2 separate regions of the Homo sapiens genome follow, and region 1 is linked to region 2. The links come from fine-mapping of genetic effects on gene expression. A gene starts in region 2. The other region holds a variant in brackets. All regions are shown on one strand. Distances are between the middles of the regions. Region 1 overlaps CEBPZ (CCAAT enhancer binding protein zeta). Region 2 holds the start of NDUFAF7 (NADH:ubiquinone oxidoreductase complex assembly factor 7).

The links. PIP is the estimated chance that this variant, and not a neighbour inherited with it, causes the effect.
Region 1: its variant is the best candidate, but not a certain one, in a credible set for the expression of NDUFAF7 in skeletal muscle (FUSION, PIP 0.53).

The regions. Positions count from the first base shown.
Region 1 is chr2:37,205,522-37,210,759 of GRCh38, forward strand. The region is part of intron 13 of CEBPZ (CCAAT enhancer binding protein zeta); the gene reads right to left. It also overlaps a transcript of CEBPZOS not described here. Among named protein-coding and RNA genes, the nearest start is that of CEBPZOS, 12 kb to the left of the region's middle. RefSeq lists an enhancer at 1-689. The variant G/A (reference allele first, on the strand shown) is at 2,455.
Region 2 is chr2:37,229,513-37,234,749 of GRCh38, forward strand. NDUFAF7 (NADH:ubiquinone oxidoreductase complex assembly factor 7) reads left to right here and starts at 2,146. Exons shown (of 10, transcript NM_144736.5): 1 at 2,146-2,248; 2 at 2,594-2,754. The coding sequence starts at 2,194. CEBPZ (CCAAT enhancer binding protein zeta) reads right to left here and starts at 2,084. Exons shown (of 16, transcript NM_005760.3): 1 at 1,900-2,084. The coding sequence starts at 2,055. RefSeq lists enhancers at 1,429-2,628, 1,586-2,035.

The DNA of each region.
Region 1 (5,238 bases), 24 kb before region 2:
TCTCCCTTCACTGACTCTCTTTTCGGACTCAGCCCGCCTGCACCCAGGTGAAATAAGCAGCCTTGTTGCTCATGCAAAGCCTGTTTGGTGGTCTCTTCATACAGACGCGCATGAAACTTTTTAAAACATTATTATTATTTAACTTTGCAGATCTATTTTTAGTCATCAGTATTTAGCAGTAAGCAGAAGCCAGAGAGGCACTGGAGGCAAAGTATGTACAGTGCTTTCTACATTTTTATCAAAAATCTTAAGACTGTCACCTGATACAGCACTTTTTTCTTTTATTAGCACCTTGTGTTACACTGTGAAGCAGAATCTTGTAAGATAATACTTTTAAAAATGTTAAAAAACAATTAGCAGAAAGAAGAGTTCGTATCATAATAAAGGAGCATGGATTATTGCAAGGGTCAAATGGCAAATAATGGTTGAGAAAAGAAAAAGATAACAGGTGTCTGAAAAATGCAAGGCTTTTATAATTGAATGGTTTAAAAATGAATGAGCAGAGATTAGCATGTGAATCTCTGGACTAGGTAAGGAAGATCTGCATTCAAATGTGAGTGGGCACCATCCAATCTGCTGGGGCCCTGGAGAGAACAAAACAAAGAGGCAAACATGTTGATCTGCTGTGCTGAGGAGGAAAATGGCGGATAAGGGGACAGGACTAACGTGCAGCTCCCACATGGATGGACAGAACAGCGTGTGGCAACGTGTTTAGTCTCCTTAAAAGGTATCCAACAAAACTAAGCTTCCTAAATGAAGGAGAGATATCTATGCTGAGAATTCACCACTACCAAGCCAGCACTATAAGAAATGCTGAAAGGAGTTCTAAATCTTTGTTTTTTGTTTCTTTTTTTGAGATGGAATCTTGCTCTGTCGCCCAGGCGGGAAGGCAGTGGTGTGATCTTGGCTCACTGCGACCTCTGCCTAATGGGTTCAAGTGATTTTTGTACCTCAGCCTCCTCAGTAGCTGGGATTATAGGGGCTTACCAACATGCCCAGCTAATTTTTGTATTTTTTGTAGAGATAGGGTTTTGCCATGTTGGCCAGGCTGGTCTTGAACTCCTGACTTCAGGTGATGCCCGCCTGGGCCTCCCGAAGTGCTGGGATTACAGGTGTGAGCCACTACACTCAGCCTAGGAATTCTAAATCTTGAAACAAAACCTTGAAGTACACCAAAATAGAGCCTTCTTAAAACCTAAATCTTACAGGGCCTATACAATAACACAATGAAAAAACAACAAAATCAAAGTATTCAAGCAACAACTAGCATGATGAATAGAATAGTACCTCACATCTCAAATACTACGTTGGATGTAAATGGCCTAAATGCTCCTCTTAAAAGATACATTTGGACCACCAACCAAGAATCTGCTGTGTTCAGGAGACTCACGTAACACATAAGGACTCACATAAACTTAAGGTAAAGGGGTGGGAAAAGATATTCCATGCAAATGGAAACCAAAAGCAAGCAGGACTAGCTATTCTTATATCAGACAAAACAGACTTTAAAGCAACAACAGTTAAAAAAGACAAAGAGGGACATTACATACTAGTAAAATGATTAGTCCAACAAGAAATGTCATAATCCAAAATATATATGCACCTACCACCAGAGCTTCCAAATTTATAAAACCATTACTACTAGACCTAAGAAATTAGACAGATGGCAACACAATAATAGTGGGTGACTTCAATACTCCACTGACAGCCCTAGACGGGTCATCAAGACAGAAAGTCAACAAAGAAACAATGGACTTAAACTATACCTTAGAACAAATGGACTTAACAGATACCTACGGAACATTCTACCCAAAAACTGCAGAATATACATTATTTTCACCAGCACACGGAGCATTCTCAAGGATAGACCATATGGTAGGCCACAAAACAAGTCTCAATAAACTTAAGAAAACTGAAATTGTATCAAGTACCCTCTCACACCACAGTGGAATACAATTGGAAATTAACTCCAAAAGGAACCCTCAAAACTATATACAAATACATGGAAATTTAATAATCTGCTCTTGAATGATCTTTGTGTCAACAATGAAATCAAGATGGAAATTAAAATTTTTTGAACTGAACAATAGTGACACAACCCATCAAAACCTCTGGGATACAGCAAAAGCGGCACTACATTTAGTAAGTTCACAGCATTAAATGTCTACATCAAAAAGTCTGAAAGAGCATAAACAGACAATCTAAGCTCACACCTCAAGGAACTAGAGAAACAAGAACAAATCAAACTCAAACCCAGCAGAAGAAAAGAAATAACAAATATCAGAGCAGAACTAAATAAAACTGAAGCAAACACTACAAAAGATAAATGAAACAAAAAGCTGGTTCTGTGGAAAAATAAAGAAAATCGGTAGACCATTAGCAAGATTAACCAAAAAAAGAAGAGAGAAGATCTGAATAAGCTCAATTAGAGACGAAATGGGAGATACTACAACC[G/A]ATACCACAGAAATACAAAAGATCATTCAAGGCTACTATGAACACCTTTATGCACAAAAACTAGAAAACCTAGAGAAAAATGGATAAATTCCTGGAAATATACAACCCTTCTAGATTAAACCAGAAAGAAATGGAAACTCTGAACAGACCAATAACAAGTAGCACGACTGAAACAGTAATAAAAAAACTGCCAACAAAACAAAGTCCAGGACCAGATGGATTCACAGCTGAATTCTATCAGACATTCAAAGAACTGGTACCAATCCTACTGAAACTATTCCAAAAGATAGGGAAAGAGGGAATCCTCCCTAAATCATTCAATGAAGCCAATATCGCCCTAATTCCAAAATCAGGAAATGACATAACAAAAGAAAACTAGAGACCAATATTCCTCATGCACACAGATGCAAAAACCCTCAACAAAATACTAGCTAACCAACTCCAACAGCATATCAAAAAGATAATACACCATGATCAAGTGGGTTTCTTGCCAGGGATATAGGGCTGGTTTAACATACGCAAGTCAATAAATATGATATACCACATAAACAATTAAAAACAAAAATCATATGATCATCTCAATAGACGCAGAAAAAGCATTTGACAAAATCAAGCATCCTTTATGATTTAAACCCTCAGCAAAACTGGCATACAAGGGACGTACCTTAAAAGTAATGAAAGCCATCTATGATAAACCCATAGCCAACATTATACTGAACAGGGAAAAGTTGAAAGCATTCCCCCTGAGAACTGGAACAAGACAAGGATGCCCACTTTCACCACTTCTATTCAACATAGTACTGGAAATCCTAGCCAGTGCAACTGGACAAGAGAAAGAAAGGGCATTCAAATCAGTAAAGAGGAAGTCAAACTGTCACTATTCACCGATGATATGATAGCATACCTAGAAAACCCTAAAGACTCATCCAAAAAGATCCTAGATCTGATAAATAAATCCAGCAAAGTTTCAGGATACAAAATCAATGTGCGCAAACCAGTAGCATTGCTATACACCAACAGCAACCAAGCTGAGAATCAAATCAATTACTCTACCCCCCTTACAACACCTGCCAAAAAAAAAAAAAATAATAATACTTAGGAATACACCTAATCAAGGAGGTGAAAGATCTCTAAAAGGAAAACTACAAAACACTGCTGAAAGAAACCACAGACACACACAAATGGAAACGCATCCCATGTTCATGGATGGGTAGAATCGATATTGTGAAAATGACCATACTGCCAAAAGCAATCTATAAATTTAATGTAATTCCCATCAAAATGCCATCATCATTCTTCACAGAACTAGGAAAAAAAATCCTGAAATTCATATGGAACAAAATAAGAGCCTGCATAGCCAAGCAAGACTAAACAAAAAGAACAAATCTAGAGGCATCTCATTACCTGACTTCAAACTATACTACTAGGCTATTGTTACCAAAATAGCATGGTACTTGTACAAAAACAGGCACGTAGACCAATGGAACAGAATAGAGAACCCAGAAATAAAGCCAAATACTTACAACCATCTGATCTTTGACAAAGTAAACAAAAACAAAGTGGGGAAAGGACACCCTATTGAACCATTGGTGCTGGGATAACTGGCAAGCCACATGTAGGAGAATTAAACTGGATCCTCATTTCTCACCTTATGCAGAAAACTCAAGATGGATCGAAGACTTAAAGATAAGACCTGAAACTGTAAAAATTCTAGAATATAACATTGGAAAAACTCTTCTAGACATTGGCTTAAGTAGAGTTCATGACCAAGAACCTAAATGCAAATGCAACAAAAACAAATAGATGGGACTTAATTAAGCTAAAAAGCGTCTGCATAGCAAAATAAATAATCAGCAGAGTAAATAGACAACCCATAGAGTGGGAGAAAATCTTCGTAAACTATGCATCTGAGAAAGGACTAATGTCCAGAATCTATAAGGAACTCAAAAAAGTCAGCAAGAAAAAAACAATCCCATCAAAAAGTGTGTTAAGGATATGAACAGACAATTCTCAAAAGATATACAAATGGTCAAGAAACATATGAAGAAATGCTCAACATCCCTGATTATCAGGGAAATGCAAATCAAAGCCACAGTGCAATACCACCTTACTCCTGCAAGAATGGCCGTAATTTAAAAATAAAAAAAATTTCAGATGTTGGCATGGATGTGGTAATAAGGGAACACTTCTACATTGCTGGTGGGAATGTAAACTAGTACAACCACTATGGTAAACAGTATGGAGAGTCCTTAAAGAACTGAAAGTAGAACTATCATTTGATCTAGCAATCCCACCACTGGGTACTACCCAGAGGAAAATAAGTCATTATATAAAAAAGACAAACACACAGATTTATAGTAGCACAATCTGCAATTGCAAAAATATGGAACCAACCTAAATGCCCATCAACTAATGAGTGGATAAAGAAAATGTGGTATACATATACCATGGAATGCTACTCATCCATAAAAAGGAGAGAAATAATGGCATTCGCAGCAACCTGAATACAGCTGGAGACCATTATTCTAAGCGAAGTAATTCAGGAATGGAAAACCAAACATTCTATGTTCTCAGTTATAAATGGGAGCTAAGCAATGAGGATGCAAAGGCTTAAGAATGATATAATGGACTCTGGGGACTTGGGGGGAAGAGTGGGAGGCAGTGGGGGATAAGAGTACACATTGGGTGCAGTGTACTGCTTGAGTGATGGGTGCACCAAAATCTCAGAAATCACTACTAAAGAACTTACCTATGTAACCAAACACCCTACCTGTTCCCCAAAAA
Region 2 (5,237 bases):
GAGCAAAGATACACTGCAAGATGAGCAAGATACAATGACAGGTGATGCTGGGGAAGGGGTGGCGGAAACGGCACTTTCATACATGGTTGATGTGAGTGTAAACTGACACAACCTCCATGGAGGACAATTTGTCAACTCCAATCACAACTATTTAATACAAGGCACACATCTGTTGGCCCAGCAGCTTCATTTCTAAAAATTAACTAACTGATTGAGACATGGTCTCGCTCTGTTGTCCAGGCTTGAGTACAGTGGCATGACCATGGCTGAACTGCAGCCTCAACCTCCCAGGCTGAAGTGATCCTCCAACCTCAGCCTGTAGCTGGCACTACACGCCCAGCTATTTAAAAAAAAAATTTTTTTTTGAGATGAGGTCTCCTTATGTTGCCCAGGCTGGTCTCAAACTCCTGGACTCAAGGTATCCTCCCACCTCTGACTCCCAAAGTGCTGGGATTATGGGTGTGAGCCACTGTGCCTGGCTCATTTCTACAAATTTATACTACATATACACTTACAAAAGTGGGGGAAAAACACGATTAAGGTTATTAACTGTAGTATTATTTAAAATAGTGAAAGACTGGCAATAATTTAAATATTCACAATAAATGGCTGGTTAGATAAATTAAGACAGACAAAATGATTTATGCAGCCATAGCAATGACACAGAACGTTATGCACTGATATAGAAGGATTTCTAAGACAGAAAAGAAAGCAAAATGTAGAGATAGGTGTATATATATGGTACCATTTATGTAAAAAAGATACACCCGTATTTCATACACATAAATGAGTATGTATATGCTTGAAAAGGTATATAGTATCCCTGAAAGATATAAAATGCAGTTGTAAAAATAATTGCTTCCTATCAGGGCAATGGTTATGGCTGAGATAAAAGTGGAAACAATTTGACTTCACTATGTATCTTTTAAAGTTTGCACCACGTGTTTCATGTGTATATATTACCTATTCAAAACTTAAATATACACAAGCACAGAGCAAACTGTGAATCTGCCTATCTCTAACTAACTCCTCCACCTTGAAAGTCCAGTCTCCAAACAAAATAATATTAAAAACAAAGTTAATTTCTGTTCCTTATCTGCTTAAAATCTTCCAGTGGTTTTGCATCAAACTCAGAGCAAAAGCCTGCCCTCTGACCCCTCGGCCCTCCTTTCTTACTATTCTCCCCTTAACTCACTCTGCCTCTGCTACACTGGCATTTTGGCTGCTCATGGAATAGGTTAGGCACTCTTCTGCCTGTCTTTGCATTTGCTGTTCCAACTGACTGGAATGGCAGCTCACTCCTTCCTGTCCTTTAGGATTCTGCTCAAACATTTCCGTGATGTGTTTGTCGATCATCTCATTTAATACTAACGCGCTCCCACTCCTTATCGTCCTTCCTTGTTTTATTTTCTTTTATAGCACTACCCCGCGTCTGCTGTACTATGTGTTTAAAAGTTTGTTTACTGTTTCTCTCCCTTAATTAGGATGCTCCAAAAAAGAGGGCTTCTGGGGCATACAGTGACACGTGCATGTACTCTATGAGAACAGAAATGAAAATTCCAATACCACTGGTGTTCAAAACACTCATACCACAAGGTCAGGACCAAGAAAAGCCACTCTCCGACCTGATGGTGTGATGGTTATACCACGTCAATAAAATCAGAAGATCGCCTACATCCTAAGAATAGCCAGAGAATACAACGTTCAATTCGAAACTTTTCTTTTGTAAACAGCAGTGGAAACCGGCGTGGGAAGCGCACCGAACACATGCTTCAGAGGCTGGGATCTCGGTCCTGGACGCCCGCGCTCTACGCAGCGCGGAAGCGGCGGGGCAGTCAGCCTAGCCACCTTCGGAACTCTCCACGCCTGATCCCGTTCCCCGGAGCCCGCGGCCGTTACCTTGGTGCCTCCGAGCCGTAACACTTCCTCCAGGGAGAACCCATTCTCGGCTTCACTAGTATTATCCTCATCCTCCTCGTCCGGATCTTCTACTGCCTCCTCGGGGCGCCAAGGCCGCTTGGCATGGAACTCCAAAGGCTCCTTGACTGCGGCCATGGCGGGCAAAGCATACGCGCGTGAAACTCAGCCTATTTCCGCTCTGCCAGTGGCGTAATTCCTGTCGGGGCGTGTCTTCTCCCGGAAATGGTCTAAGCCCCAGCTCCTGGCGGAGCGAGCTAGCCTGCGAATTTCAGCATGAGTGTACTGCTGAGGTCAGGTTTGGGGCCGTTGTGTGCCGTGGCGCGCGCAGGTAAGCGTCAGTCCCCTCGAAGCCCGGTTGCCGTGGAAGCCGCGTGGGGCGCCTTCCTCAGCTCTTCAGTTGAGGGTACCGGGGGATCAAGGGCTCGGGGGCTCACTTCCACCTTGAAGGTACCCTGGGCTGGAAACGGGTCCGGTACAAACGCAATAGGGCTGCGTAGTCGTGGGCAAGTGGGTGCTGTCTCTGCGCCCCGTGGGCGTGCTAAGCACAGTAGCCCGCGGTCTGCGGTGGGGCGAGGTTAAGGGTTCACGAAGCTGTTTTGAAAACGCTCAGGCGGCTTGCGCTCGTGAATGGTCAGATTTATCATGGGGTCTGTTTAATTTGTGTTTTTCGCAGCCATTCCTTTTATTTGGAGAGGGAAATACTTCAGCTCCGGGAATGAGCCTGCAGAAAACCCGGTGACGCCGATGCTGCGGCATCTTATGTACAAAATAAAGTCTACTGGTCCCATCACTGTGGCCGAGTACATGAAGGAGGTGTTGACTAATCCAGCCAAGGTATGGGTCGGGTAGCCCGAGGACTAGGCCCTCTCTAGCCGATTTGCGAGGTGCAAGCCAGGAGGGAGAAGCCCGAAGGTTCTCAGCCCAGGCAGTGGGGGTGCCTGCCAGGGGAAGAGCCATTTCTGAGGACCTGGGGACAGATAATTTGTCAGTTGGTCAGGGCTGGCTCACGTCAGAGGCAGTGCCAGTAAAGAGGAGAGGACACGGTCCAAGGGTGTTTAGGAGACAGAATGTAGCTGATTGGATTTATGATGCGGGAAGGATGACTTTCCTACTTGGCTGATGGTGGGTGGTGTGGATTCATTGCTTTGGGAGAAGGAATACGGGAGGAAGGATGGAGAGTTCAGGCTGGTATATGAATTTGAAGTGTGTGGGACTCTTAGGTAGAAATCTCCAACAGGCAGCTGGAAATAGGAATTACTGCCTGGAAAGTCGTCTGTGTTGGAATGGCTTCAGCTGGCATTGGAGACATGTGCTGGGTTTTCTCACATGTGCAGTTGAGAATGCAGTCTGGGTCGTCTTCACTGTTCTAGGATTAGGCACAGTCACAGCTTTCTGACCCACGTTTCCTTGTCTGTTCTACAGAGCCATTTGGTGAAAGCCTATAGTCCTTTATTTTAGAATATTTCATCTTTTGCTGGGTTGAAATATGACCTCTGTGGAATTCTGGGGTTAGATTGGCCATTGTTGTTGGATATGGTAGTGTGACTCTAGTGTCGAGGTTTACCCAAGGCCGGTATCTTTCTTTCGATGCCGGTTAGGCAGGGCTGCAAGATAGGTGGCTTAGACTAGTGTGGTGGTACTAGAAATAGAAGAGGGTGATTTAGAAAGGGACTGACAGGATTTGCCGATGGATTGAGTGATGGAACGGAGGAATCAAGGCTGATTCGTACTTTTAGCTTGAGCAGTTGGGTGATGATGGTACCTTTTATTGAGATTAAGACAGACAGGACCAGGTTTGGAGGAGTACTAGGGAGAGGGCCTACACCAGGAGCTGCATTTTATACATATTTTGTTAGCAGTGACATGCAGGTGGAGATAGAAAGTAGGCAATTCGCTGTAAGAGTCTGGCGTTCAGGGCCGGACGTGGCGGCTCACGCCTGTAATCCCAGCACTTTGGGAGGCCAAGGCGGGTGGATCACGAGGTCAGGAGTTTGAGACCAGCCTGACCAACTTGGTGAAACCCCGTCTCTATTAAAAATACAAAAATTAGCCGGGCGTGGTGGCTTGTGCCTGTAATCCCAGCTAGTCAGGAGGCAGGAGAATCGCTTGAACCCGGGACGCAGAGGTTGCAGTGAGCCTAGATTTCGCCATTGCACTCCAGCCTGGGCAACAGAGCGAGACTCTGTCTCAAAAAAAAAAAAAAAAAAAGTGAGCCTGGTGTTCAGAAGAAAGACTGGGCAGGCATATATACATTTGCTCGTCATCAGCATATAGGTCATATTTAAAGCCAAGGAACCAGGGAGAACATACTGAGAGAAAGGAAGGTTTCCCAGCATTGAGAGTAGGGGTAACTCTAAAATGTAGAGGCTCTTAACCTAGGGACCCTTTAATAGAAATCAGGGGTTTCATGAAGCTGGATGGAAAAAATATTATACCTTTATTTTCACTAACTTTCAACTGAAATTTAGCATTTCTTCAATTATGAACATACGCAGCAACTAGTAGCATCAGCAATACCTGTGACTTTGTCATCTGTGGAAATCATTGGTATTTCCTTATCACAATACAGTGATCACAGGCATCTCAGGATTTCATCGTGCTCATCCTTACTTCAAAATTTTGTTAATTATTGGGTCTTTGGCTTGATTATGGGCTTTTTTGTTTGTTGGCTTTTTGAGATAGAGTCTCATTCTGTCACCCAGGCTGGAGTGCAGTAGTGCAATCTTGGCTCACTGCAACCTCCACCTTCAAGGTTCAAAGGATTCTTGTGCCTCAGCCTCCCGAGTAGTTGGGATTACAGGTGTATGTTTCCATGCCCAGCTAGGTTTTTTGTATTTTCAATGGAGATCGGGTTTTGCCTTGTTGGCCAGGCTGGTCTTGAACTCCTGGCCTCATATGATCCGCCTGTCTCAGCCTCCTAAAGTGTTGGGATTACAGGTGTGAGCCACTGTGCGCGGCCTAATTATATTTTTTTAATACACTAGTAAAGAAGTGTATATATCACATTTTTTAGAACATTTGATACACATTTTTCAGTTATTTCTTTGTGGTTCTGTGCATTTAAAAACACTCTGTGAAGGGGTCTATAGGCATCACTGGGCTACCACAGTGGTTCATAACACAAAAAAGCGTAAATACCCCAATAATGTTTCCTTATGAACGGAACTAGAAAGCCTAGAAGAAGAGATGTGTGGATTGAAAAAATGTTCTCAAAAATGGGAGTGACTTGATTTATTTTGAATGCTGAAGGGGGAAAGTTGAAGCTGGAAGAGAGAAGGGGACAGCTAAAAGGACTCAGGGGAGTTGTATGAGGAATG